4 linked regions of the Homo sapiens genome follow. The protein of the gene in region 1 interacts with the protein of each later gene in a biochemical or structural test. Each region holds a gene or a part of one and is shown in the gene's direction. Other genes may lie near its edges.

The links.
Region 2: the proteins of SPI1 (region 1) and RUNX1 form a complex in vitro, tested with the Homo sapiens proteins (one study listed by BioGRID).
Region 3: the proteins of SPI1 (region 1) and ETV1 form a complex in vitro, tested with the Homo sapiens proteins (one study listed by BioGRID).
Region 4: the proteins of SPI1 (region 1) and IRF2 form a complex in vitro, tested with the Homo sapiens proteins (one study listed by BioGRID).

The regions. Positions count from the first base shown.
Region 1 is NC_000011.10:47,354,529-47,361,553, reverse strand, and holds the end of SPI1 (transcription factor PU.1), read left to right. Parts: intron 1-1,513; coding exon 1,514-1,701; intron 1,702-2,547; coding exon 2,548-2,710; intron 2,711-6,007; coding exon 6,008-6,327; 3' UTR 6,328-6,694; downstream 6,695-7,025. UniProt on the Homo sapiens protein: Pioneer transcription factor, which controls hematopoietic cell fate by decompacting stem cell heterochromatin and allowing other transcription factors to enter otherwise inaccessible genomic sites.
Region 2 is NC_000021.9:35,039,303-35,046,327, reverse strand, and holds part of RUNX1 (runt-related transcription factor 1), read left to right. Parts: intron 1-6,901; exon of another isoform or gene 6,902-7,025.
Region 3 is NC_000007.14:13,895,667-13,902,691, reverse strand, and holds part of ETV1 (ETS translocation variant 1), read left to right. Parts: intron 1-1,852; coding exon 1,853-1,954; intron 1,955-6,604; coding exon 6,605-6,826; 3' UTR 6,827-7,025. UniProt on the Homo sapiens protein: Transcriptional activator that binds to DNA sequences containing the consensus pentanucleotide 5'-CGGA[AT]-3'. Required for olfactory dopaminergic neuron differentiation; may directly activate expression of tyrosine hydroxylase (TH).
Region 4 is NC_000004.12:184,471,541-184,478,846, reverse strand, and holds the start of IRF2 (interferon regulatory factor 2), read left to right. Parts: upstream 1-4,296; 5' UTR 4,297-4,468; intron 4,469-7,306. UniProt on the Homo sapiens protein: Specifically binds to the upstream regulatory region of type I IFN and IFN-inducible MHC class I genes (the interferon consensus sequence (ICS)) and represses those genes. Also acts as an activator for several genes including H4 and IL7.

The DNA.
Region 1 (7,025 bases):
GCGCCCAGGAAGTCCCGCAGATGTGTGGCAGTTTTTGTTCCTGGAAAAGGTGTTCATGCTGAAGATCTTCCCCAGTTCCAAGACAGGGCTTTTGGTGGCATGGGGTTATTCCCCGGACTTCAGTCTCCTCCACCACAGACTCAAGGAACCCACAGGGGGTTTTCCAGGAAAGTCTCAGGTCCCAGGAACCTCACGGGAACACAGGTGCCACTGCTTAAGGTCATGGCTTTGAAGAGGAAGGGCCACCGTGTGCCTGGACAAGTTCTAGTGTGTGAGGAATGTCAGCCCTGTGACTCTGCTGTCACACCTTGGCCATGTGACAAGGCTGTGTGAGTGTGTGTGTGTGAGACAGAGAGAGAGACTGTGGGCAGCCAGGGAGCTCAGGAACCCGTGGGAGGTTTTTTTCTTTTCTTTTTTCTTTTTTTTTCTTTTTGAGACGGAGTCTCGCTCCGTCGCCCAGGCTGGAGTGCAGTGGCGCAATCTCGGCTCACTGCAGCCTCCGCCTCCTGGGTTCACACCATTCTCCTGCCTCAGCCTCCTGAGTAGCTGGGACTACAGGCACCCGCCACCACGCCCAGCTAATTTTTTTGTATTTTACTAGAGACGGGGTTTCACTGTGTTAGCCAGGATGGTCTTGATCTCCTGACCTCGTTATCCACCCACCTCGGCCTCCCAAAGTGCTGGGATTACAGGCGTGAGCCACTGCGCCCGGCCGAGTTTTTTTTTTTTTGAGGCAGAGTCTCACTCTGTCGCCAGGCTGGAGTGCAGTGGCGCAATCTCGGCTCACTGCTACCTCCACCTCTCGGGTTCAAGCGATTCTCCTGCCTCAGCCTCCTGAGTAGCTGGGATTACGGCACCTACCACCACGCCCAGCTAATATTTTGTATTTTAGTAGAGATGGGATTTCACCACGTTGGCCAGGATGGTCTCAATCTCCTGACCTCATGATCCGCCCGCCTCCGCCTCCCAAAATGCTGGGTTTACAGGCGTGAGCCACCGCGCGCGGCCCTGGCTGGGAGGTTTTAACAGGATAGGAGGGGAATCAACTTTCCCTGAGGGCCGGCTCTGGTGCGAGGTGTTTTACAAATGTGTACTCATTCGTATCTTCCCAATAACTGTGATCCCCATTTTACAGGCAACTCAACTGAGGTTAGAGAGGCCACATATGTGCCTGAGGTCACACAGCAAGTAAATGGCAGAGCCAGGATTAGACGCTCGGTCTGTGTGACTGCACAGGAATCAGGATGGAATTGCTGAGAACACGAGCTTTGCTTCAGCCCTGAGTCCTGGCTGTGACCCGGATGCTTTTGACCTTGGGCATGCTATGTAGCCGCTCGAAGCCTCAGTGTCCTCATCTATAAAATGCAGGCCTAGAGTAACCATGCAGGTGGCGAGGGTTAAACGAGATGGTTAGGCCCCATATGGCCTGGCAGTATTATTTAATGTTACTATAACCTTTTCCTGCCCTGCCCAACCCTGAGCTCACCCCATACTGCCTGGCTGTCCCCCACAGACCATTACTGGGACTTCCACCCCCACCACGTGCACAGCGAGTTCGAGAGCTTCGCCGAGAACAACTTCACGGAGCTCCAGAGCGTGCAGCCCCCGCAGCTGCAGCAGCTCTACCGCCACATGGAGCTGGAGCAGATGCACGTCCTCGATACCCCCATGGTGCCACCCCATCCCAGTCTTGGCCACCAGGTGCATGCCACCGCCTGCCCCGTCCCCCAGGAGACTGCCAGGCCTGTGGTGGGGCCCGGGAGCTTCACAGGAAGCTGACACAGGCTCTTACCCAACTCAGCTTCCTGCCCCACAGTGCCAACGGCGGCTGGAGCTCCAACGGCTGCCGCCTGACCCCCCAAGTGACCTCATGACCCCACACCCCTTATCTCATCTCACCCCGAGTATGGACAGACCCCAGATAATTCTCGCACCCTCACCAAGCCTCCCCATCCCAACGCCTTGTTGTGGGCCCTCCTGGGCCTCACTGTCTGCCACCCCCATTCACTAGCCCTCATGGATCCCACACCAAGTCACTGAACACCTCTACTGACCCTGCCTCTCCCCAGTGACCCTCCCTACTGACCCTAACCCGGATCAGTGACCTCTGCTGACCTCTACCACCCCTACTGACCTCCAGGGTCCCTCCACTCACTCATCATCCCACCTATGAAACCCCCTTCCAGACCCAACGCACCGGTCCCTAGCATGCCCTCTTCTGACCCCAGCCTAATGCGGGTCCACACAGCACCGCTGCAGGGAGGAGAACAAGGCACCACTTCCCCGGTGCCCACAGTCCTAAACCAGGAGGCCCAGCTGGGAGGGCTGGGTGGGCTGGATGTCAGCACCCCTCGCCCCACAGCCTGCACCCTATGTGCAGCACCTCAACTGGCCCCCCTTTTCCCTGGTCTTCTTCCTCCAGTCTCCTGTGCCTGCCATTGTCCCCTGCCCTCTGCACTCCTTCTCTCCCCAGCTGACCTCCCTCCCAGCCCCCCTGAGCTGTAAGCTGGCCCTTCCTGACTCTGATCTCCTTCCCCCACCGTCCAGGTCTCCTACCTGCCCCGGATGTGCCTCCAGTACCCATCCCTGTCCCCAGCCCAGCCCAGCTCAGATGAGGAGGAGGGCGAGCGGCAGAGCCCCCCACTGGAGGTGTCTGACGGCGAGGCGGATGGCCTGGAGCCCGGGCCTGGGCTCCTGCCTGGGGAGACAGGTGGGGCACCTGGCCCTCCACCCTGGCCCCGACCCTGGCCGTGTCTGTGCCCTGCCCCCACCCAGCCAGGCCAACTGACCCAGCAGCCACGCCACCGAGTCGCGTGTGTGTGTGTGTGCATGTTTGCCAGTGTGTGTGTTTTGTGGGGCTGTCTGTGGCTGTCTCTGTGTGTGTGTATCTGCTGTGTAGTGCATACGGGCATCTCCATGAAGTGTGCCAGGTGTGTGTGTCTCTCTGTGCCATGAGTGTGTGTACATCTGGGTGTGTGTGAGCAAGTGTGCAGAGGGTGCGTGTGCACAGGTACGGGCAGGTGCATGTGTGCGAGTGGCTGTGTGAGTGGGTGTGTGAGAAGGTGAATGTGAGAGCTGGTGTGGCTGAGAGTGGGTGTGGCCATGTTTGTGTGTCTGTCAACACATGAATGTATTTCAGTGCGTGTGAGCAGCTGTGCACGTATGATGTCAGTGGGTGTCAGCAGTGTGTGGGTGTGCCTGTGTGAGCAGGGATGTGAGCATGGTATATGTGAGTGGCTGTAAGCAGGCATGTGTGAGTGATATGTGTGAGTGGGGGTGTGACAGCAGGTGTGTGAGCAAGTGTATATGTGTGAATGTGTATGTAAGCAGGGATGTGTGTGATATAAGTGTGTGTGAATGGGCATAGGTGTGTGTCAGTGGATGTGTGAGTGGGTGTGAACATGTTTGAGGGTGTATGTAAGCAGGTGTGTGTGAGCAGGAAGGTGTGAGCTGGGGTGTGTGAGCATGTATGTGTATATGTGAGCAGGTCTGTGCATGTATGTGAGTGGATATGTGTTTTAACATGTGTAAGCATGTGTGTGTTCCCATGTGTGAGCAGGTGTGTGTGGGGGGTGAGGACGTGCTTAAGCACCTGCGTGTGTGAGCAGGTGTGCATGTGTGTGAACAGGTATGTGTATGTGTGAAAGCAGGTGTGTGAATGAGTGTGTGAGCATGAATGGGTGTGAGTGGGCCGGGCGTGGTGGCTCACGCCTGTATCCCAGCACTTTGGGAGGCTGAGGCAGGCGGATCACCTGAGGTCAGGTGTTCGAGACCAGCCTGGCCAACATGGCGAAACCCCGTCTCCACTAAAAATACAAAAATTAGTCAGGCGTGGTGGTGAACGCCTGTAATCCCAGCTACTTGGAAGGCTGAGACAGGAGAATTGCTTGAACCCGGGAGGTGGAGGTTGCAGTGAGCCGAGATCGTGCCATTGCACTCCAGCCTGGGCAACAAGAGCAACTCCATCTCAAAAACAAGAGAATGGGTGTGATGTGTGAGTGTGAGAGCAGGTGTGTGTGAGCATGCATGAGTGTGAGCTGCTGTGAGTGGATGTGAGAGCAGAATGTGTGTGAGCATTTGAGTGTGCAAGTAGGTGTCTGAGTGGTTGTGTGTGAACAGGCGTGTAAGCATGCAAGTGGATATGCATGAGCAGAATGTATGTGCATGCGTGAGCAGGTGTGAGGTGCAAGTGTAAGTGGTGTGAAATATGAGTGAGCAGGTGTCAATGAGGTGTGAAAGAGCTGGTGTGAGCGTGTGAGTGATAAGTGAGCAGCTGTGAGGTGTGAGCATGTATGTGAGCAGGTATGTGTGATGTGTGAGCATATGTGTGAGCATGTGTGTGTGCAGATATGTGTGGGCAGGTGTGTGTGAGTGGGTGTGAGATGTGAGCATGTGTGTGAGGTATGAGGTGTGAGCATGTGTGAGGTGTGAGCATGTGAGTGGGTGTGAATGTGTGAGGTGTTAGCATGTGTGAAGTGTTAGCATGTGTGTGAGCATGAGTTTGTAAGCATAAGTGTGTGTGAGACTTGGTGTGAGGTGTGTGAGGAAGTGTGTGTATGGATAGGTGAGCATGTGTGTGAGCAGACGTGAGCATGTGTGAGTGGGTGTGTGCGTGAGTGAATGGTGTGAGGTGTGTGAGCACAAGTGTGTGAGCAGGGGCGTGTGTGTGTAGCTGAGTAATGTGAGATGTGTGTGAGCAGGTGTGTGCGTGTGGGGCTGAGTAACGTGAGATGTGTGTAAGCAGGTGTGTGCGTGCAAGTGTGTGTGAGGTGTGGGTAGGTGCGATCATATGTGAGTGGATATGTGTGAGTGAATGGTGTGGTGTAAGCATGTGTGTGTGAGCAGGGGCATGTGTGTGCAAGGGTGAGCAATGTAAGGTGTGAGGGTGAGCAGTGTAAGATGTGTAAGCAGGTGTGTTTGTGCAAGCATGTGTAAGCAAGTATAAGCAGGTGTGATTATGAGACCTGGTGTGAGGTGTATGAGCAGGTGTGTGAACATGAGTGTGTGAACCTGGTGTGAGGTGTGTGTGAGCAGGTGTGAGTGGGCATATGAGTGTGAGAAGGTGCATTGGGTGTGACCGTGTGTGGGGGCAGTAAGTGGGTCTGAGTGTGTGTGCATGTGTGTGAGTGGGTGCATTGGGTGGGTGTGAGTGTGCATGTGAGTGGGTGTGAATGAGGTGTGAGCATGAGTGGGTGTGACCAGGTGTGTGTGAGTGGGTTGTGAATGTGTAAGCAGATGCAGTGTGGGTTTGAACATGTGGGTGGGTGCAAGCATGTGAGTGGGTGTGTCGTGTGGGTGCCAGTGTGTGGGGGCATGTTAGTGAATGAGTGTGTGAGCATGTGTGTGAGTGTGAGCTGGTGCATTGTGTGGGTGTGTGAGAAAGTGACAGTGTGTGAGGGCAGATGTGGGTGTGAATGTGCAAGTGGGTGGGTGTGGGTGCAATCTGGCGTTTGGGTGCATTGCACAAGCATGTGTGTGAGCATGTGGGTGTGAGTCTGTGAGCACGTGCATTGTGTGTGCATGTGTGTGACAGCATGTGTGTGATCAGATACATTGTACGTGTGAGCGTGTGTGGGTGTGAGCATGAGTGAGTGGTTGCATTGTGTTTAAGCATGAGTGTGAGTGGGTGTGAGAAGGTGCGTTGTGTGAGCACGTGTGTGAGTGGGTGTGGGCGTGATGTGTGAGCATGTGTAAGGAGGTGTGGGTGCGTTATGTGGATGTGAGCATGTGTGTGTACTTGGTGCACTGTGTGGGTGCGAGTGTGTGCGCGTGGGGGGGGTGAGTGCGTGGGTGTGAGTGGGTGTGTGTGAACGCCTGTGTGTGCGCAAGCATGTGTGTGTGTGTGAGTGTGGGTGCGTTGTGTATGCACGCCCGGCGCGGGCTGGGGCAGCCGTTCCCCTGCCCTTCCCGGCCACCCCGTCCCCGGGCCCCTGTGCGTACGCAAGGCGGTGGGGGCGGCTCCCATGTGGGCCCCGGGCCCCCTCCCACCGGGCCCTCCCCCCCGCAGGCAGCAAGAAGAAGATCCGCCTGTACCAGTTCCTGTTGGACCTGCTCCGCAGCGGCGACATGAAGGACAGCATCTGGTGGGTGGACAAGGACAAGGGCACCTTCCAGTTCTCGTCCAAGCACAAGGAGGCGCTGGCGCACCGCTGGGGCATCCAGAAGGGCAACCGCAAGAAGATGACCTACCAGAAGATGGCGCGCGCGCTGCGCAACTACGGCAAGACGGGCGAGGTCAAGAAGGTGAAGAAGAAGCTCACCTACCAGTTCAGCGGCGAAGTGCTGGGCCGCGGGGGCCTGGCCGAGCGGCGCCACCCGCCCCACTGAGCCCGCAGCCCCCGCCGGGCCCCGCCAGGCCTCCCCGCTGGCCATAGCATTAAGCCCTCGCCCGGCCCGGACACAGGGAGGACGCTCCCGGGGCCCAGAGGCAGGACTGTGGCGGGCCGGGCCTCGCCTCACCCGCCCCCTCCCCCCACTCCAGGCCCCCTCCACATCCCGCTTCGCCTCCCTCCAGGACTCCACCCCGGCTCCCGGACGCCAGCTGGGCGTCAGACCCCACCGGGGCAACCTTGCAGAGGACGACCCGGGGTACTGCCTTGGGAGTCTCAAGTCCGTATGTAAATCAGATCTCCCCTCTCACCCCTCCCACCCATTAACCTCCTCCCAAAAAACAAGTAAAGTTATTCTCAATCCATCCTCTTGCAGCACAGAGTCTCTTTTAAAATTTGTTGTGTATCTCTTTTGGCCCCTGTGTGCTGCGACGTCTCTTTTTGTCATTTGTCCATCGGGTGTTTACCGAGGACTGTACCCAATGCTGGACCCTGGGAACATGAGGACCAATGACACAGAGCGCCTGAACAGGAGTTAGAGTTTGGTGGAAAGAACAAGTCCTCAATTGTGATTAGGAGAGCAGATCCTATTTAAAAGCTCTCTACTCCTGATAGTTGTTGTTTTTAAGCCTTGATGAGGTTTGAACTCATGATGATGATGATGATGATGATGATGACCATGACCAGCAACAACAT
Region 2 (7,025 bases), on another chromosome or scaffold:
AATTGGGGGGAAAGAGAGGAGTGAAGCCAAGCAAACCATTGTTCCCTTCCTTGAGAGAGGCAAGCCGGAGTCTGAGAGACTGGCACATGAAATTGATGTGGTCTACCACAGAGAACTCGGGGCTTTTTCTATCACACCACACCAGGTTCCCACCGAATTTGCTTAGGAAGGAAGACAAGATGCGATTGAAATTCCCTGGAATTATCACACACGGTGTGCAACGTACAATTCTTGCCGAACCCAAACTTGGGTTCCCTTGAAAAGTGCAGTGTGTCGGCAGAAAGAGTTGAGGTAGGTGTGGGGAGGAAAAGCCTCGGCACGTACATATTTTTGCAAAATGGCTCAGGTAGCCTTGTTCTTAGAAGTGGCTTAGTGGTCTATGCAAAGCCTGAACACTCACATGCCTCTGCGTTCCTAGAACCACAGGTAAAAATCTCAGCGAGACCGACTCCCTGCTTGTCTTCTCAGCGGTTCAAGTTTACCCCACTGAAGCAGTCTTTCAAAGGGAATTGCCAAGTACAAAGCTGCATGTATAAAGTATGTTCTTCTCTAAGCATCGGCTTGCCGCTCTTTTCAGAAGAATATTTATTAAGACACTTCTTCTGGCTTGACTGAACACTTAAGATCTTAAGACTTCAGGCTTAAGCCACAGAAATTTATTTTCACACAGTTCTGGAGGGAGACTGGAGGTGTGAGATCAAGGTGTCGGCAAGGCTGATTTCTGGTGAGGCCTCTCTCCTTGGTTTTGCAGACAGCTCCCTTCTCCCTGTTTCATCACATGGTTATCCCTCTGTGTGTGTCTGTATCCTAATCTCTTCTTATAAGGATACCAATTGCATTGTATTGGGGCTAGCCTAATGACGTCATTTTAAAACCCTATGTCCAAATAGTGTCAAATTATGAGCACCTTGGGGTTAGGACTTCAATGTATTAATTCTAGGGAGACATACTGCAGTCCCTAACAGTGGGTCTTAGCAAATCTGACCCACCCTGGCCCACAAGGAAACTGTGGGATGGGGCATCCTGGCTGCTCTCTTGGATGTTAAAGAATCAGACTGTAGTTCCTCCTTTGTGAGATGGAGTTTCACATCTGAAACTGCCCACACATTTTGAAACTATAAAAAAAAAAGGTGTGATAAAACTATCTAAACTCACAATCATGCCTTTGCCATTTAGACTTTTTGCACGCTAAGAAACTGTAGAAAATGACGAGTAATTTTGAAATGTTTAAGTGTTAAAAGAGCAAATGGCAGCCGCCCCAAAGAAACCTCCTCTTGGCTCTGCTTTCTTGGGGAGGATTGTCTTTGTACTTCAGACTGACTTTATTAGTGGGGTTTAGGGGGCTGTAGGAGGCCCCACAGCTGCTCACACACCGAGTACAGGGGCATGGAGCAACCAGTAGCAGAAGCACCTTTGGAAACAGCAACTGACCCGATTCTGAATGGCAAGAAGCCTTTCTGAGCTTTTGAAAGCAAATGAGTAGCTGAGACGTTCCTACATTCTCTCAAAATAGATCCGAAAGATGTGCTCAGAAAATATGTAGCCCTTTACTGAGAAATCAAGCCTGGTGAGATGCTGGGACAGAGGACGGCTGCACAGCCGCTGTGCACACACAGACTTTAATAAGGAGCCCAAGGCCTAGAGAGAAGAGTCTGGAGGCATAAGAGCACCTGCTATTAGAGAAAGCAATGGCAGGAGGTCTGTGCAGGGAATGTGCTCAGATGACACAGTGATGGCCTTTTCTTTCTTTTCTTTTTTCTGGCTTTCATCAAATAGCATATAGAACTTCTCTCTTGAGCCTTAGTTTCCTCATCTGCAGAGTAAGGATTGCAATAGTACCTGTTATTAAGGTAGCTGTGTGGACCGAATTAATCTGTGTAAGGTGCTTTGCCCAGCCATATAAAGTAAGCAATAAATCTGAATGGTGGCTATCAATGTTCAGTTATCTAAGAAGGCAGCCAGTCAACCGCTGTCTGCTCTAGGGAGGGAGAGGTCACAATGCCCTGGAGGACATTACAGGAGGCTCCCTGGAGAGAGGGACACAGGAGTTGGGGGAGGGGAAGTTGGGAACAAAGGAAAGAAGGAAGAGTGGTCTAGGCCGAGAGTACAGCCTGGGCAAAGTTAGAGCTGCAGGATCCCACATGGGCATGGACAGCAGTGGGTAACTCAGTCCACCCTAAGGGCTTTTCACCAGCAGGTCAGCCTTCCTTCCCTTGTGGAAAAAGAACGAGAGCCCTTTATGAAATTCAACTTAACAAGTTTTGATTTTAAATATGGAGGCTAGTTGGGGCAGGATGTCATGCTAAGTCTTTGATCTGAACACACAAGGACAACAGAGATGTCTCTTTTCATTGAGACTGCTGGTGTAGCTTTATTTTCTCCAAGGCTCTTCTTAAGGAAAAGGCCATTTTGCCTGTATACCTTTGAGCAGGTTCTCTGGGCCTCTGAGAGACTCCCATTTTCCCTGCTCCTTGGGAACATTTGTAATCATGTACTTTGTCAAAGCCCAGACATGAAGGTAGCTTTGATGGCTTGTCTTGTTGGAGGCAGCAGAGGAGGCCCACACAGGAAACTCAAGCAAATTTTCAGTTTCTCAGGTAACTTCCTAGTGACCTAGATGAGTCAATAGATGTCTTTGTGTCTCATTTGAGTTCTGCAAAATGGGCTAATAATATTCTAGACAAGCTTGCATCTAAATTACCAAGTTCCTGTTGGAAGTCTTTACATGCATCAGAAAGAGGTACCATAAAACACATCACAAATCTTCTTAGCTTAATAACACAAAGCCACTTAAAAATATTTTATTTTCTGTTTAGAAAATAGTTCTCCCATCATTTCACAAATGCAAGATATTTTCCCTCATTTTCGTAATTGCTTTCTCCAACTCCCATTTTTCAAGAAATCTTCAGAAGCTACACTGGTGCCTGAACAGATATTAAAATGTTCAAAGCACTTTTCCCACAACTCTTGTTTCTCGGCCTCCCCTGCTCCTCCCCATCAGATGCCACCAGTCCCCTTCTTTAGCCTTTTTGCTGAGCCTCCAGCCAAGGCAAAGAGGTATGTCTTTCTTGACCTCTTCCCTCTCATAAAATATAATAACTAGGATGTCCTGGAGTGGTAAAAAGGGAGCATTTCCTTTGAGATCTTTGCTGACCGTGAACACAATCAGGGAGTACTTTACGAGAACACAGGCTGGCTCTTGAACACAAAACAGGGCTCAAAACCTCCTGTCACCTTCAACATGCTGGGAGGATAAGCTCAGACACACTGCTCTCACTTGCGCAGGCTTCACTCTTTGTTGGGGAGACACGTGTTATACTCTCTTGGCTCTCTGAATCTCTCTCTTTCTCTCCCTCCCTCATCTTGCAATAACACTGAGTAATGATGCCAGAAAGGAGCCAAGGTGGAGGAATAAACACTAAATCCGAAACATGACGGAAATTATGTATTTTATTGCAGTGACAGAAAGAGTAAGGCCCTTGCTCAGGTTTACCCATGAAAATTATGTTTGGCTGCACGTAGAGAAAAGCTGACCACAGTGGCTTGAGCAGACGGGCAGGAGTTCCAGAGTGAGCAGTCCAGGCTGATACGGTGGGGTGCAGGACACTCCTATGTTTTGGTCCCACCATGCTGAGGCCAGGGAGAGATGGCCTGCACCTCTGATCTGTCCAGGCAGAAAGGACATGGGAGGCCTCAACCCCTTCTTGTGGGTCCTGGTATTTTTATTCAGGAAGGGAAGCCCTTCTCTGCAAACTTTCGCTGACATATTGCTTAGGCCACAACTAGGTCACAGGCCTCTGGCTGGAGGGAACTGAGGACAATGGAGTTGTCACTTTCCAGCCTGGAGAGTGGAGGGAAGCAGAGAGGAAGGTAGCTGGGAGCAGATGTCTCGTGAACCCAGAGCCACATCTGCCAGACCTGGTGACAAAGACAGGCTGTGTGCCTTCCCAGTCATATCTTGTATCATTTGTTTTCTGTGCCAGCTGGGCTTTGGAAACAAATGCAGAGAAACTTTATGTTCTTCCTTCATTCCCTCTTGGAAGTTGCAGATGGATGCCAAGGGTGAATATTTATTGTTGACCCATTGAAAGCAAACTGGACAGGAGAAGGGATGAGGTGGGGGAAGGGGCTAGGTTAAATGGATCCAAGTTCACACCTATTTTCAGTGTCAAAGCCCCAAATCACACTTGAGCGTCTCCTCAAGTTAGAATGAGCAATAGAAAACCAGACAGCCCTGTATCTATGGGAATGTTGCTTGCATCAGAGCCACCACACCTTGCTGTGAGGTTGATCGGTTTCTCGCAGCTGGAAATAGTTGCTTCCCGCCCCCCATCTTCCTCACTCTTTTAAACTCTCAAAAATCCCCCAGCCTCCCAAATTTGTTTTAATTTTTAAGAGAATTCTTTTCTACAAAAGAGGGAAACCTTCTTTCAAATGGCCCTTCATAAATTTCCCTAAAGAGGTTTTTATCTCTGATAGAAATATGAAAAACAGATAACCAGATAATTGCCCTCTATCTAGGCTTTAAACACTTATTCATACATTGAATTTCTGCAAGTTACAGATGATTGTTGCTGTGTGATTACTGGCCCTGTCTATTTCCTCAGCATGGATGCAAATCTTTCTCCCTGAGAAAGTCATTGCTTCGTTAAAAAAAAAAAAAAAAAGAAAGAAAGAAAAAGAAGAAAGAAAGGATGAATGAAAAGAAAGTTGTTATTCAGTTTTTCTCTTGAAATTAGAAATTTCTTTTTGTTTTGCTTTCATTTTGTTTTTCTGCAAGATCGGTGTTCATTTAGAGAATTGTTGATTTTGTATGCAGCACTGCCCTCCCATGCCATGGTCCATATGTGTCCATTTTTTGATGGACTTCTTTTTAAACAATGAGTTCCCCAAGACATTTTTGGGGCCTCAAATGGGAAAGGTCATCACAAATAGAAATCTCAGTTTGCTAGTTGGGCTTGCTCAATCGCTCTGCTGATCTCAGGACTGATGCTGCTTTGCATAAATGCGAAGTTCATGTTAAATTGATTCTAAATCAAATACTCAACGTATTCAGTCTTGAAACATGTCCATTGGGAGAGAGAACTATGCAGCTCCAACATTTTGCAAAGATTCTACTTTGCTTTCTTTGCCAACATCCAACTTTTACTTCTGGGCGTTAGAATACCCTCCGTAGAGACTGTGACTTCTCAAAAGAAACTTTGCTAGTCTCGAATGGAGAATGAAATAATAAGATTTGAGCAATAAATCAAATATAGCCTGAGAGCAACACCACAGAGCAGCCTCTGTCATCTCCTCTCCTTGGGAGGTACGTGGGTCTTGATCAGCTCTCATGTGCTTCTGAAAATGTGTAGGTTTTCATATATATGTTTTTCATTGTTAGTAGATCCTAAAGAAAGACCCAGAAAATCTTGCAGCAGTCAGCTTGCCAGATGGGGGTTATGTTAAAAAGAGCAAACAGAAGTCAGAGCTCTGAACACACCGCAGGGTATTCCATAGTCACATTCCATTGTGGGTGAGTTTTTGTTGTTGGTTTTTTTTTTTTTTTTTTTTTTTGGATGGAGTCTACTAGCTCTGTCACCAGGCTGGAGTGCAGTGGCCCCATCTCAGCTCACTGCAATCTCCGCCTCCCACGTTCAGCCATTCTCCTGCCTCAGCCTCCTGAGTAGCTGGGATTACAGGTGTGTGCCACCACGCCCGGCTAATTTTTGTATTTTTAGTAGAGACAGGTTTTCACCATGTTGGCCAGGATGGTTTCGATCTCCCGACCTCGTGATCTGCCCGCCTCAGCCTCCCAAAATGCTGGGATTACAGGTATGAGCCACTGCACCCGGCCCATCCTAGGTGAGTTTTTTAAGGGAGACAAAAAATGTCAGAGTGGCACTCATTGCTCAAGAGAGAAGCACTTCCCCTTTTACTGTGCAAAATTTTATAATATGTATAGCTATCAATGTTTGTTTCTTATTACTGCCCCAGAATGTGCAAAAGAGAGTTTAGGTCAACTAAGATACATTGGTTTGAGTGCCATTTTTTTCAGGAGCAGTTTTAACACCAACCACAGTTTGCTGCACTTTCTTACACAGCTTCTGTTTGCACTTTGAACTCTGTGCACTGAGCCCCTCATTCCACACCATCTGCAGGCTGCATCTGGGCAGCTTCATCCAGCTCGGTAACAGTCACAGCTGAACTTGACATTCACCCACTTTGAAAGTATAGAATTCATAAAATCTGAAACCACATATGTGTATAAAACCCATGCAAGAGTGGGTAGGAACTAAAAGGAGGAGAAAAAGTAGTCCTCCCCTTCAGGAGTGTTCTCTCTTATCCCAGCCCCTTTCATGTAATGAATGGGTGAATGGGTGAAAATGAAATTATTTAGGCATTGACTGACAGGTAGGAACAGAAACTCAGGCTTCTAGTTTATTATTATTTATTATTATTGAATCTACTGTTTCTAAAGATGAGAATGGCTTTTACTTCCAAAGTTCTAGAGGAGAGGAACAACGTTAAGCAACCTTAAACAAATATTAGCACTGTGAAAGGTGCAGGGTCATATAAAGAAGTAGAAGTGCCGACAATGAAAATTCTATCCAACTGTCAATCATTCCATATCATTACTTCATTTTTTTAAATAAAGGCTGTGTCTCCCATATGCTTCCCTCCAGGTTGTATTCAAAACAAAGAAATAATTGTATTACAGATGTGAATAAATCTGTTTAAAAAATAAGTGAACCCTGAGACATATGAACTATGAGACATTGTTCTATATGATGCTTTGTAAGTTTTATGTGCTGTGTCATAGAGTTATATAGAGTTATGTATATATATAGTTCTGTATAGTTTCAGTTGGCATCTAAAAATTATATAACTTTATTTTTTAAAATCTATAATTATAAATATTTTTAAACTGCTAGAAAGGAAGAGCCGAATATTTGGCTGGAGTGATTTTTAGACATTTCTCTACCTTAGGGCACCAGAGAGGTTCACTTGCCCAGGGTTCCATAGCTGGTTGGTGCCAGAGTCCG
Region 3 (7,025 bases), on another chromosome or scaffold:
AATTATTGTTTAAGGAGATACTAATACTTTATTTTCACATCCCCTCCAGGTTTGCATATAGTTCGGCTGCTATGCCTATTAAAGGTTCACTGATGTCCATAGTTAGGTTTTTGAATGAAATATTCTTTAGAAAATGCTTTCATTTCTTATTGCCTCCCCCCAGCGCCCCCACCCCCGCTTCAATTCACTATTGCTCAGAAGATTTACATTAAAATGAAGTTTATCTTTGGGAAATTGAGATGTTCCTGCCACTGTGATTGTCTGCTGGGATATATGATGTTGTCCCTGTTACATCGCATCTCTCTACTCTTAAAAAACATACTGATGCATGTCATTAAAGTACTTTATTTCTTCATTCAGAGAATAAAAATTACTGAGAGGGAAAATAGCTAGGATCGGTATTTCTAAAGGAAAAAAAAAACCTGGAGAAAGGTTATTACTAATAAAGCAAAGAGAGACAGAATGATCTCTTTGAAAAGCAATCTATTTTAGTATATATGACATAGCAACAACTTGGAATTTTATGGAAATGAAGGCGCTCCCTAGCCCTATTAGATAATGTCCTCTTGGGGTTGCCTAGGTTTGCGTGGCAGCTGCAGTTTCTTCTCAGACTAATAAAAAGTGGAAATTAATGAGAGAGTGACTTTAGCTGGGGTAGGAAAAGCAAGCTACACTATTCTGTATACTGCTTTGGCTAGCCTGGGGTGGTGATGAGGTAGGGATATATATACATTGAGGAGAGAGGATTTTTTTTAAAGCTCTATTGAAAAACTCTTAGATACATTGCTCCTCCAAAGCCACATAATAAAAAGCTCTGAGTTTTTTTATTAAACAACAGAGTAGACATTCTGCTTTAGAGATTTTTGTTTGTGGACTCATATACATGGTGACCTTTTCCACTTCCTTCTTATTTTTAGCATCCAATTACCGTTCTCTAAATGAATGCTTAATTCTTCAGTTTGGTATTACCCACAGTTTTATTCGGCTGCTGCTTTAGGCAATAAAAAGTATTTGCAGTTCGGTTTATTAATTTGTGTACTGTTTCCTCTGCTACACACATTGTCACTTGTTCACTCTTTCATATAGTATTGAGCAGGGTATCTTTTTTCCTTTGGCTTATCATAACCTCAGTAAAACACCTTTACAAGGAGATCACTAAGCTGCTCTTTATCTATAGTTTTTGTCTGAAAAACCAAGAAGGATAAAACAGACAGTATATCTCAGAATGAAAAACGTGCCTCATTTTGGTGAACTGTAGCCTGTTCATTCCTGTTGTAAGAACATTTCCTTATTTCCATTTAATTTTGTATTCAAAACAATAGTGACAAATAATTCTATTGTGGTGTTTTAGAAGGATCACTGCACGCCTGGTTTAAAATGCAAACCAGGCCAGGCGCAGTGGCTTACTCCTGTAATCCCAACACTTTTGGAGGCCAAGGTGGGTGGACCACCTGAGGTCAGGAGTTCGAGACCAGCCTGGCCAACATGGTGAAACCCCACCTCTACTAAAAATACAAAAATTAGCCGGGCGTGGTGGGGCCCACCTGTAATCCCACCTACTCAGAAGGCTGAGGCAGGAGAATTGCTTGAACACAGGAGGCGGAGGTTGCAGTGAGCCAAGTTCGCGCCACTGCACTCCCAGCCTGGGTGACAGAGCAAGACTCTGTTTCAAAAAAAAAAAAAAAAGCAAACCAGGAGACAGGAAATCCAGATTACGATAGCTCTTGCTACTTTACTTATATCCTTGAGTTGGACATTTTTGTGGGTTTGGAAGTAATTAATTAAATAATTTTTATGAAATATGCTGATAAGTTAATACTTAACACTACAATGTAATTCTGTTTCGCGGCAGGTGGCCCGACGTTGGGGCATTCAGAAAAACAGGCCAGCTATGAACTATGATAAACTTAGCCGTTCACTCCGCTATTACTATGAGAAAGGAATTATGCAAAAGGTGAGCAGCTAATACAGCATTAAAATTCATTGAAATGTTGCACATTAATCTGAACATCATACTTTAAACGCCACATATCATTGCATTGCTGAAGCGAGTTTTTCACTCATTTTAACAAATGCTTAGCTCTTGGTTTTGGTATTACAAGCCTTTCTATGTATAAATGCCTAGACATTGTAGACAAATGTGTAGTGATATTGTATACAGAATAATAGGCTTTCTGGAAGGTCCTACTTTGCTGCACATGGTTAAAAAAGATTGTTTTAGTATTAATAGCACATCTGTCTTCAGAAGTTTTTATTGCACATTGTCTACAATTATATAATTTTGGAATGCTTTTGTTTATAGCAATAAAGAATCTTTAGAATAAATTTGTACTTTTTTCTTGTTTTGATTCTTAAAACAGACATTTCTTTTTCTCATTTGTGAAAACATTTTCTTCCTTGCCTCAAATCTTGCCTAGTTTTATCATCTGATAGTTTGACATCCTAAACCATTCATTAAAAATGAACATTTGATCTTATTTGGTTTGTGGAAGTTCAATATATTTTATTTCAAATGAGCTTCCCATAATATTTGAAAGTAGCTTTTTGTTTGTTTGTTTGTTTTGAGACAGATTCTAGCTCTGTCGCCTAGGGTAGAGTGCAGTGGCGTGATCTTGGTTCACTGCAACCTCAGTCCCCCAGGTTCAAGCAGTTCTCCTGCCTCAGCCTCCTAAGTTGCTGGGACTACAGGTGCGCACCACCACACCCAGCTAATTTTTGTGTTCTTAGAAGAGATGGCGTTTCGCCATATTGGCCAGGCTGGTCTTGAACTCCTGACCTCAGGTGATCTGCCTGCCTTGGCCTCCAAGGGGCTAGGATTACAAGCATGAGCCAATGCACCCAGCCAAGAGTAGCTTTTTAAAAAAGAGTAGAGAAAAAACAAGTGAATTACACTTAAAATAAAATACAACATTTTTGAAGAAAGGAATAAATAAATGAATGAAGATAAAACGTGGATATTTGTTTTTATTACACCCTTTAGCTTTGCAAGTGTACAGAAATCTAATTGCTTTGACTGTGAACCAAGTTTATGATTTACCTATTGTGAACGTTACAGTTTTATTTTGTATCATTTGTTTATTTTAGGGTTTGTAAACATAGTTACATGTTATAGATTGTGGCACATTTTTATGTCACCATAGTTTTACCCAGAAAAACTAGACCAGTTGCTACATGAAGCTTATTAGAGCAGCGAAAAATAGCACTGTTGACTTTCCTAGAACATTGTCTATTGACAAGAGGCATATTATCTCAGTGCCCTAGAATTTGCTGGCTCAGACGTTAGAACTTCCATGATCCTTAAAAGAAAAGGCTGACTTCGATTTTCAGTTGCTTCCTGTTTTCTCAATCATGCCTTCAAAATGTATAACAGTTTACTACCTGCTCCTCCTGTCTTTTTCATCTCAACCCTGGGGTCATTTCTAATTCCTCCCTTTCTCTCACCTACCTTTTTGTAGTAAGATCCTTCAAATACATTCCATTCCTTTCTTTTCACCACCATCTTCCTAATGCGGGGGCACATTGCCTGGGCTGTCACAGATGGTGCTCAGCAGTGTCCCCGGGCAGTATTGCACAGCAGTAACAGATAAGGCAGTCAGGAATTAGGTTTGAATGCTAGCCTCTCACCAGATTACATTCTTGAACAGATTATTTTCCTAGTAAATGGTGATATTCTTGCCTCATTAAAGTTGCTGTGATTATTAAATGAAATAATGTACTTGAGATACTTTACATTGTAACTGGCACAATGTAAAGTATATCTGAACTCCTGGGCTCCAGCAATCCTCCTGCCTCAGCCTCCTGAGTAGCTGGAACTACAGGTTTGCATCACTGCACCCAGCTAATCACATTCTCGGATATGTACCATTCTGATGTTCAAGTAAATTCTAGTATAGTCATTCAGAGGAAAACTATGCTGTCCTTTTTTAAATAGCAAAAACTATGATGTTGAATTATATATTTTAACATGTAGGAGAAAATATTTATATGGCTATATTTGTTCACTAACTTAAAACTTTGTGGGCATATGTGGTGTATATAATATAGAAAATTAGAAGATTAGAGAAAAATAAAAATAACTTACATCTGAACATGTTAAAAAAATTGAAAACTGGTAATTAATTTTAGTAATACGGAAGAAGTAAGAAACAATGGAACAGTGTATGTTTACCTTACAGACAATGCCTATGTGTACTTCTATTTCAAAATTAGGAAATGCCTAGAACAATATATACCAATATGTTAATGGTGATTATATTCTGGATGATATAATTATAGACCCTTTGTTTTAACTTAATTGATAATTTCTAATTTATCCTTCAGTATCCCCATATTACTTCTGAAATTTTAAGAGATAAAACATAATTTGAATATCCAGCCATTGAAAGCACAGCTCTAAAGCTATCTCCTTGTTTACTTTTGATTTATCTCCCTGGAAAAATTCCTGTTTTTTCTGTCTGTCTCAGTGTTGCATTTTGGCTATACTTAATGTACAGCATTTTGCACGTTAGTACTTCTGTTACTCATAATGGAAGACATCATTCCCCTTGGTTGGTTATCATCCCTTGTTCTAAACTCAGTAGCATTTAACATAGTCCAGCAAATGAAGTAGTAGCCCTAAAAATGTTTATTCAAAAGCAATACAGAAGGAAGCAGTGAGGAAAGGCAGAGTCCTTGAGAGATTGCATAAGCTTGATTGCATGTTACACATTTTAATTCATTTATTACATAATTTTTAAGTATAGCCAGTAGCAACCCGTCAAAGGAAGTCCAGTACTTAAAGCAAATGTATCTTCCTCCACAGCCCCAAACAAAACAAAGCACATTATAAAACACTCAGAGGTATGCAGGCCATTTATTTTATTTTATTTTTTCTCCAAATACTTTGAACAAAGAAAAAAATAAAGGAAAACTAGGATTTACTATCTCAGCTTTGTTCCTGATAGTGCTATTTTTATGTTTATGGTCATTTCATCATTTCACCTTTAAGATCTTAATTTTCTTTGTATGAAGGACTAAAGTAAATAAATGTATGCCAGACTCCTCTGTTTCTGGCACAGTGCTCTGTGCTGGAGACTTCCATCCCAACCTTGCAATGGGCTTTCTGAGGCGCCATTCCTGTCTCCATTTCACAGCAAAGGCCACTGAGAGGTAGTCTAAGAAACAGGTCCAAATTCATAAAAACTACTAAATGTTCATTCTTTCAAACCTAGGTACATTCAGATTATTTGAATTCTCTAAAGTGGTTCCTCTTACTTAAATTCAGGGCAAAAGAAACAAAAAATGTTCTAAATTTGAATTCAGAGCAGCAGCATTCATTGACAATTGTTACTTTTCCCTCAAAGATATAACAATACTTTATAACCCAGGAACACACTGTTGCCCCACATCAAAAATCAACTAGCAAATGCCTTGTTGATATACAGGAACATGGAGGTGTTGTGTCACCTTCAGCTTTCTAAAATCTCATACCTTTACACACACCCATACAAAGTGACTATCAAAGTTAATAGAAAGAACTGTATTCATCCACCCATCCCCCCACCCCGGGTTTTGAGAGCATCTCAGCATTGTCTATTAACAAGAGGCGTATTCATCTCACTCAGTTGTTTATAATTTTCTAGGGAAGCATTACTCTTCAGAATTTAAGTTTGGGGTATGTCATACCCTATAAATTATGCTACTTCTTTATTCCAGGCAGTTGTCACATTTCTTTTTCTCATTTCCTCCCTGTGCATTGTGTATTTTAAATTCCTTTCACTTTTTTACACCTCTTACTTCAATTTGACACTTTACACACATCCTTAACTCTGTCTAATGCATCTTGCCTTCATTTTTAAAAGTGATGTACCCAGGATACTGTCCTTTTGATCCATCTTTCATTTAAATGAGGCTGTGTATCCTTTCTTTCTTTCTTTCTTTCTTTCTTTCTTTCTTTCTTTCTTTCTTTCCTTTCTTTCTTTTTCTTTTTCTTTCTCTCTCCTTTCTTTCTTTCTCTCTCTCTTTTCTTTCTTTCTTTATTTCTTTCCTTTCTTTCTTCTTTCAACACACACTGCCAAAAAAGAAAAAAAGTAAAGAATCCATTTATTCTGTGAATCAGTGAATTACTAGTCTAGTCTTATTGGGAATAAAGCACATTTTTCTTTTAAATTTTGAATTTAGTTTTTCTACCATTTCAGATATGTAATATTAAGAGGGACAGTGTACCTTAAAAGTACAGATTTGTAGATACTACCTTTTAAAATGCAGAAAAAAAGCTTTCAATATGAAATGCCTGCATTAAATAATTGACTTTTTTTCAAAACAACGATGTAAGTTTACCTCTATATTAAGACAAGCAAATTCCTGTGCTTCCTAGCTATATCTGGAATTAATTAATTATTATTCAAGGTCAACATTTTGCATCTCCCTTGACTGAACTGTAGTTTATTCCACAAAGTAAAGACTTTTTTTTTTTTATGTGTATCTGCTATTAGTTGTTTGCTTTTTTGGGCCAGAGTTACCCATCCTTTCCTGTATATTAAACCACGTTTTTGGCTTTTTCCTTCCTGTCCTTCCCCATCTGGCGATGGTGAGGATGGGTTTTTCTCTTCCATGTTATCATCAGGTGGCTGGAGAGAGATATGTCTACAAGTTTGTGTGTGATCCAGAAGCCCTTTTCTCCATGGCCTTTCCAGATAATCAGCGTCCACTGCTGAAGACAGACATGGAACGTCACATCAACGAGGAGGACACAGTGCCTCTTTCTCACTTTGATGAGAGCATGGCCTACATGCCGGAAGGGGGCTGCTGCAACCCCCACCCCTACAACGAAGGCTACGTGTATTAACACAAGTGACAGTCAAGCAGGGCGTTTTTGCGCTTTTCCTTTTTTCTGCAAGATACAGAGAATTGCTGAATCTTTGTTTTATTTCTGTTGTTTGTATTTTATTTTTAAATAATAATACACAAAAAGGGGCTTTTCCTGTTGCATTATTCTATGGTCTGCCATGGACTGTGCACTTTATTTGAGGGTGGGTGGGAGTAAT
Region 4 (7,306 bases), on another chromosome or scaffold:
TGAAATACAAACATGCTTCATCCAGGAGATGACTCTAGTTTCACTATAAAAGACCCTTCAACTTTTTTCACGTTAGACTGAAGTGTTTGGTCAGATTTCCTCAGTATGACAAAGGTTACTCTTTTTTTTTTTTTTTTTTTTTGAGATGGAGTCTCGCTCTGGCTCTGTCGCCCAGGCTGGAGTGCAGTGGTGTGATCTCGGCTCACTGCAAGCTCCACCTCCCGGGTTCATGTCGTTCTCCTGCCTCAGCTTCCCGAGTAGCTGGGACTACAGGCGCCCACCACCACGCCCGGCTAATTTTTGTATTTTTAGTAGAGACGGGTTTTCACCGTGTTAGCCAGGATGTTCTCGATCTCCTGACCTCATGATCCACCCGCTTCGGCCTCCCAAAGTGCTGGGATTACAGGCGTGAGCCACTGAGCCTACTTTCTTACCCAGGCTTCCAAAAAGGCTGGAGTTTCCACAGAGATTTATTACTATATGCATCTCATCAAAGGGCTAAGATACTTCTTGACTGTGTATATCAGTACCATGTGGCTGTTTTGGTTCATTTGTACATTTTTGGTTTGCAGTGACATGTCATCAAGGGCCTAAGAACAGAAATTCATTCTGTCTATGTTTTATGAGTTTAGGGGCCTGGAAAATTGCAAGCAACACCCATGCTTCAGGGAGGCCCCAGGACTCAGGAAAGGGGGCAGTCTGTGAGTCCTCCCAGTTTCCCAGCTAATCAATGAAGTGAACAGTGCAAGGCTGTGGAAAAGATGTTCTCTCTGACTTGGGACATGTATAATTTGTTGCACCTGAGACATGTGTAGGAGTTAATGTGGTCAGAGCTCAGAAGTTACAGATTTTGGAGTCATCAGCAAATAGTGATATCTGAAGCCCTGGGCGTGGAGGAGAACACCCAAAGATAAAGCATGTAGAATGAGAAAATAAGAGGGTTGAGGATAGAATGCCTGGAAACACCATAATTTAGGGGGCTGGCAGCAGACGAGGAACCGGCCAAGAACTAGAATAGGACAGCAGGCTGTCACATGGGCATCGTGGAGAGCAGCCTGCACAGTCAGCATTCTTAAATCCTACACACAGACAGAGGAGATGCGGATTGGAAACGGTCCCTTAGAAAGATCACTAGAAGGAAATACATAAAAATATCCACAGGTCTATTCCTGACTAGTGAGATGTCAGGTGGCTTATGTTCTTCTCTCACCATTCTTGCATCTTCCAAATTCTGTACAAGAAACATTAATTACATTTATATTAAAAAGCTATTAAAATATAAAACAAGGCTCTGATCAAGTCTAAAATATTTTATGAGAGCCTGATGAAAAGAGCAAGTAATTATTAATTCACAAGTATTTCAGTGCCTGTGTGCTGGGCACCATGCTAAAGATAAAACAATGAACAAGAGGACAGCTCTGTTGTTTGACAAAAAGGAGCGGAGGCTGGTTTGGCAAGGGAGGGATGTAGGGCTTGTGGGACACAATGGCAGGAGATGAGGCTGGAAAGGTCGTTTGGTGCCAGATTACAATGGACTTTATGTGTCTTGTCAAATAATATGGTCTTTATTCTGAAGGCTACAGAGAGGCTTTTGAGGGGGGCAGTGTTAGGTTTGGAATTGTGCTTTACCTGAAGTTAATTTTCGACTGGATTTTGGCAGTAGTGTGGCTGCTGGCCTGGGGGAGTCCAAGCAGGAGACCAGGAGCACAGGCAGCAGGCAAGTGCAGTAACTGAATGAAGGCAGTGCCCTGAGCACGGGCCAGGCCCAGAGATATTTAGGGGTAGCGTCAATAGGATATGACTGATTGGATGTATGTTGCACGAAGTAGGGCATTAAGAAAAAAAAGGAACAACAAACTTCTTCCTGCTTATCAAAGACCATAATGAGGGCAATGGCCTTTCCTGAAACACGTTCCTTGGGAAGTCAAGCATGAGCATCACAATAGTTTGGAAGCTATCTGCACCCAGCAAGTGAGTTTCCAGTTAGCCTCACGCATGGCAATAGGTGCTTAGGATGCAGGATGCAGGTTCGTGGCCCCGGCCCTGTCTGGCTCCCCTGAAATCACACCACAGAGGCAGCTGCCTTTCGTAAACACAAGGCAGGCAGTGTTAGCTGGTCCAACTAGACCTCATTCTTTCTTTCACCTGGGGCCTGTGCACGGAGGCTGCTGACATGAGTGGACTCCCACGTGTGTGGTGAACGAGAAGTTCAAAGTGACACTTTGCATTCTTCCCTTCTTCTCCACTCTCCTCTTCCCGCTCCAGGAAAAATAAAGGAAGATGATTGTTTTGGTACAGGAAAAAAAAAATGAATACTAGGTTTTTAACTTGTGTCCCGGGTTGGGTAAAGAATGACAACTATTCTATAGTTTGTATAGACTTTCCCTTAGTGGTCATTGCTATATGACATAAGAAAGTCAGTGCCTGGGCCAGGCACTGTCACAGGCCTGTAGTCCCAGCTACTTGGGAGGTTGAAGCAGGAGGATCGCTTAAGGCCAGGAGTTCAAGGTTACAGTAAGCTATGATAGCACAACCTGAGTGACAGAGCAAGACCCTCTCTTTTTTTTTTTTTTTTTTTTTTGAGACAGAGTTTCGCTCTTGTTGCCCAGGCTGGAGTGCAATGGCACAATCTCGGCTCACCACAACCTGCGCCTCCTGGGTTCAAGCAATTCTCCTGCCTCAGCCTCCCAAGTAGCTGGGATTAGAGGCATGCGCCACCAAACCTGGCTAATTTTGTATTTTTAGTAGAGATGGAGTTTCTCCATGTTGGTCAGGCTGGTCACAAACTCCCGACCTCAGGTGATCCTCCTGCCTTGGCCTCCCAAAATGCTGGGATTACAGGCATGAGCCACTGCACCCGGCCTACCCTGTCTCTTAAAAAAAAAAAAAAGTGAGTATTATAATAGAGGGGATAAGGAATAATGTGTATGTGAGGTCTATTTCTGAGACCAGAGCCACAAAACAGAATCCTGCACCTTAGCCATTTTCTTACCACACGCGTTTTCTTGGATACTTCCATTTTTCCAGTCTATATAATTCAATACTTCTGTGACAGAGAGGTGTTGGAGTTTTTTGTTTTGCTTTTGTTTTTTCGCAACTCTTTACATACAAACAGCTATGGTCTCCCAGGAAGGAACTTCCTCTGTTGAGTACAGAAGTCTGGGAAAAGACTGGTGAAATTGCATGCGAGGAAGAAACAGGTCTAACTAAATGTGAATCTATACTTTTAAAGCAAGGGACCACAAAGGGTAGGTCCCAAGGAAGTTGCATTGCTTGCTGCACTTGTCACACGGGCTGTACTTTCTTCTCTCATTTATTTCCATTTACAGCGTTGAAAACTGAGGCCTTAGGCTTTGGTTGAAAACCGAGGCCAAGGGTGACCAGCCAGTGAGTTAAGGAGGCCCCAGCCGAACTTTGCTGGAAGTGCTCCAGCATAAAGCCTCTCTCCAGAACCAGCCGCCACTGAGACGTCTTGAAGTCAAAGTAACTCACACCCTTGTCCACCTCGCCCTGCGGTGAAGAAACTTCGGTCGCACAGGCTCCAGAACTCATCTTGGCGTGGGCTGTGACTTACTGGGGGATGGGCCTCCTTTTCGTTCTAGCTCCTAAATGGAGCGGAGCGCCAGGTGGTGTCAGAGGGGGCGGCGGCCCCTCCAATGGTGGCACCCTCAGCCACGGATAAGGTTCCAATTAGGTAAGGACGCAAGTAATGCTGTCGTTTCGGCTGACTGCTCCTTTCATTCCTTGGAGGTGGTCGGTGTCACAAAACGAATTTTCATTTACTCTCAACAGTCACACCAGCCCTGCTAACTGGATGGTCGCAGCCCCGTGCCTTCGCCGGACGCCCTCCTGGAACCTTCAGGCCACCCTGAGGATGGAGACTCGGGTGCCCGCTCTCCTCCCCTACCGCCGCGGGCCTGCGCCCCCCGCCCCGGACCCCGACTCGGACGTTCTAGCCGCACGTGCGGGCGCCCCTGGGTGCGAGCCGCGGACTCACGAGCCGCTGCTTGTTGCTCCCGCCGCCGCGACCTGGGGAAGCGAAAATGAAATTGACTTTTCCGAGAAATGATGAAAGCGGCGCTGCCCGCCAATGAGCTGCTGCGGCGAACTTCCGCACCTCCCGGCCGGGCCGCTCGCGCCCTCCCTCCGCCTCCACCTCCCGGTTGCACAAGCTTGAAACAAACACTGGGGAGGAAGGGCGGAGGGAGGAGGGCGGAGAGGGGAGGCGAGGGAGGGAGCGCGGCCGGAGGAGGGCGGGGGGTGGGGGGATTTCCAGCCGCGGCTCTTCGCAGTTTCCTCTCCTTGTTTTGCTTTCGATCTGGACTGTTCTCAGGCAAGCCGGGGAGTAACTTTTAGTTTTGCTCCTGCGATTATTCAACTGACGGGCTTTCATTTCCATTTCACATACCCTAGCAACACTTATACCTTGCGGAATTGTATTGGTAGCGTGAAAAAAGCACACTGAGAGGTAACATTTTTCAAATAATAGTTGTGACTGTGTGTGTTTCTCTCGAGGGCATGTTTCTGGGGACTGTGGGGGGCCGTGTGTGTATGCGTGTCCTGATGCCTTGACACGATGTTTTGCAGACGGAAAATGCCGGGGTTCATAAATATTAATACTGATTTTTGGAGGAACAGTCGGCGCAATTATGGATCATCTGATTTTAGGGGAAGCAGGTTCTGCTGCTGTTGCTGCTGCTACTGGGGCTGCTGAGGCTGCGAGGAGGAGGAGGAGGAGGAGGTAGAGAGGGAGGAGGAGGAGGAGGTTGGTGGAGGTTTAATTTCACTTTTGGATTTGCAGATGCGGAGAGGTGGCTCCATGGACACAGACCTGCTGTGTGTGCTTCTGCGCCCCAGGTGTTGTGTGTGGGGGTGCAGGTCAGCTGGAGTCGGGCCTCATTTAAAACAAAATTGTGTGTATGTGCGTGTTTGTGTGTGCGCGCGTGTGTGTGTGTGCAGCCACCGCCGCCACCGGATCCGAAGGAGGGGAGCGGGTCCTTCTCGGTGCCCGCGGCGGCGCCTCTCCAGGCTGCCTCCAGCGTAAATAAGCAGGCACCGCTCCCCGGCCGGGAGGAGCGCCTCCAGCCACGGCCAGAGGAAACTTGCTGGGGCGCCCCGCGGCGGTCCAGGGGCTCGCCTGCCTGCCGGGCTCGGGGTCGGGTCGCGGGCGTCGGGTGCCAGCGGCCGGGGCGGGAGGGCGGGCTCGGAGCCGGGCCGGGCGCCGGGCCTGGCCGACGCGCCCTGCTTCCTGGGGGCTGGGCCGCCGCCGCCGCCGCTCAGAAGGGACGCCGCGTCCTCCTTCCCGCCGGCCAGCGCCCGGTCGGGCCCTGGGGCTTTGTCATTGCACTTGTCCCAGCGCGCCAGGGGCTCGGGCGGCGCGTCCCAGGAAGGCACCGTGCCGAGGGGTCAGCCGCCCGGGCCGCGGCCTAGCGCCGTGCGCCCCCGGGTCCCCGCAGGCGCCCCCGGCCGGCCTCGCGCGCTGGGCCTGACCCGCCTCGGCTACGGAGCGGGCGAGGTGGGGGCGGGGAGCCTCCGGGGACCGAGCGGCGCAGTGGGGGCCGGCGTCCCCTCGGGGTCCCGGGGCGCGGGCCGCGGCGGGGTGGGGACGCGAGTGCCCGCCCCGTGCCCTCCGACCCGGCTCCGGGCGCCGGGTGACATTCGCCCGCTGGCCGAACATGGTTGGTGCAAAGCCGCGGCGGCCGCCACTTCCTTTCCGCCTCGCCGGTAGGGCTCGCCCACCGAGTGAAGCCGGCCGCGGCCAATCGCGGCGCCCGCCTGCTCCCAGTGGCACGGCCTGGGGGCCGGCGTCCGCCGGGGCTGGGGAAGCCGTTCCAAGTTCCAAGGGTCGCGGGTGTAACTCATGCCCCTCCCAGCACGCGCCGGCGTCTCCCCTTGGCCCCCGGTCTGGGTGCGTTTGCCACCCTCTCCTCCTTGTTCCCTAAGAAGCGGGGGAGGGGAAGGAGGCGGGCAGCCTGGGCAGGGCGCCAGAGCCGTGGTCGGGCACCAGGTGAAACGCCCGGGTCAGTCTGTGTAGGCCGGACCCTTGGCGCTCGGCTGCGGATGTGATCCCGGGGACTGGCGGCCGAGGTAGCTCAGAAGAGCGAGGTGGCTTTCGCTCGTTTCTGACCCGCTACTGTCTGAAACTTGGGGACATATTGCCCGCCCCCTCCCTCTTCAACCTCCTCCCTCCGGTTGCTCCTTGTCCTTGGTTATGGAAGGAAAAAACTCAGTTGTTCTAAATGAGGAAAAGTGGTGCTGGCATTCGTCTTCAGCCACCGGCCTCCTTATGGCTGTGACTCGGTCTGCTTTTGATGAATGGCCAGGAGGTATGGAGGATAGTTAGATTTCCTGTTGTGGATTTTCAGGCATCACCGAGACTGCTGTCAAGCCTGCAGTCATTTACTAGTTTTCATATCGACTGCAGGTTCTCTTTGAGCAGTTCAGTTTTTGGTGCTTAAGGGCAGGTGCACAACGGGGTCTGGGGTTAGACCAGGCGGTGGATAGTCTTGATGCTAGGCAGATGCAGTTATCCCTACCAGGCCCAGAGGGTGACTCTGTTTAACTTCACCACGCACGCAGATTCAGGATTCTCTGATTTCCCCAACTTTCCTTTATTCTTCTTTTAGTGGGAGAAGGGGCAAAAGTAGAAACCTAAAAAATCCTGGGAAAAGGAGCCTTTTCTGAGGAAACTTCAGCAGATGAAATATTTAAGACTTGAACTGGGATCTCTAGGGGGAACGTTGGAACATCTATTGATTGATGTGTCAAAGTCCGGAATTTCACTGTAATTAGTGAACGATTATAACTTGTAACTTTGTCTGTTATGTAAGAAATTACATTTTGGTCTCTTAGATCCAAGAGTTCTTGTCTGTTACGATTTGTAACTGCTTGTTAAAATTAAACATTTACATATTTCATTCTCAGTGAGTTGTCATTTTTTTGTTAGAGAAAGTTCCAGTTATTTCAGATTTACTTACCTGTAAAAATGTCAGCATAATCAAAAGTAAGGATCTGTAGTCAAACTGGAAGCAAATTATGGCAAACACATGCGTGCCATGAAGTTCTGACAGCCTTATGAACAATGGTCCCACTTTTATCCCACTTTCTGAAACACTTTATTAGGCAAATAGTGCACCAGAGCAAAAGATGTTTAAACTTACTGGAAAAATAGACACTTTGGATGCTCCACATTTGATGTGCATCAATTTTCTCATGTTACCAACGATGTTATATTTTTATTCTTAACATCATCTCGTACAAAACTGTTGTTTTTAGAGCATTTTCACATAATATCCTTTTGATAGTG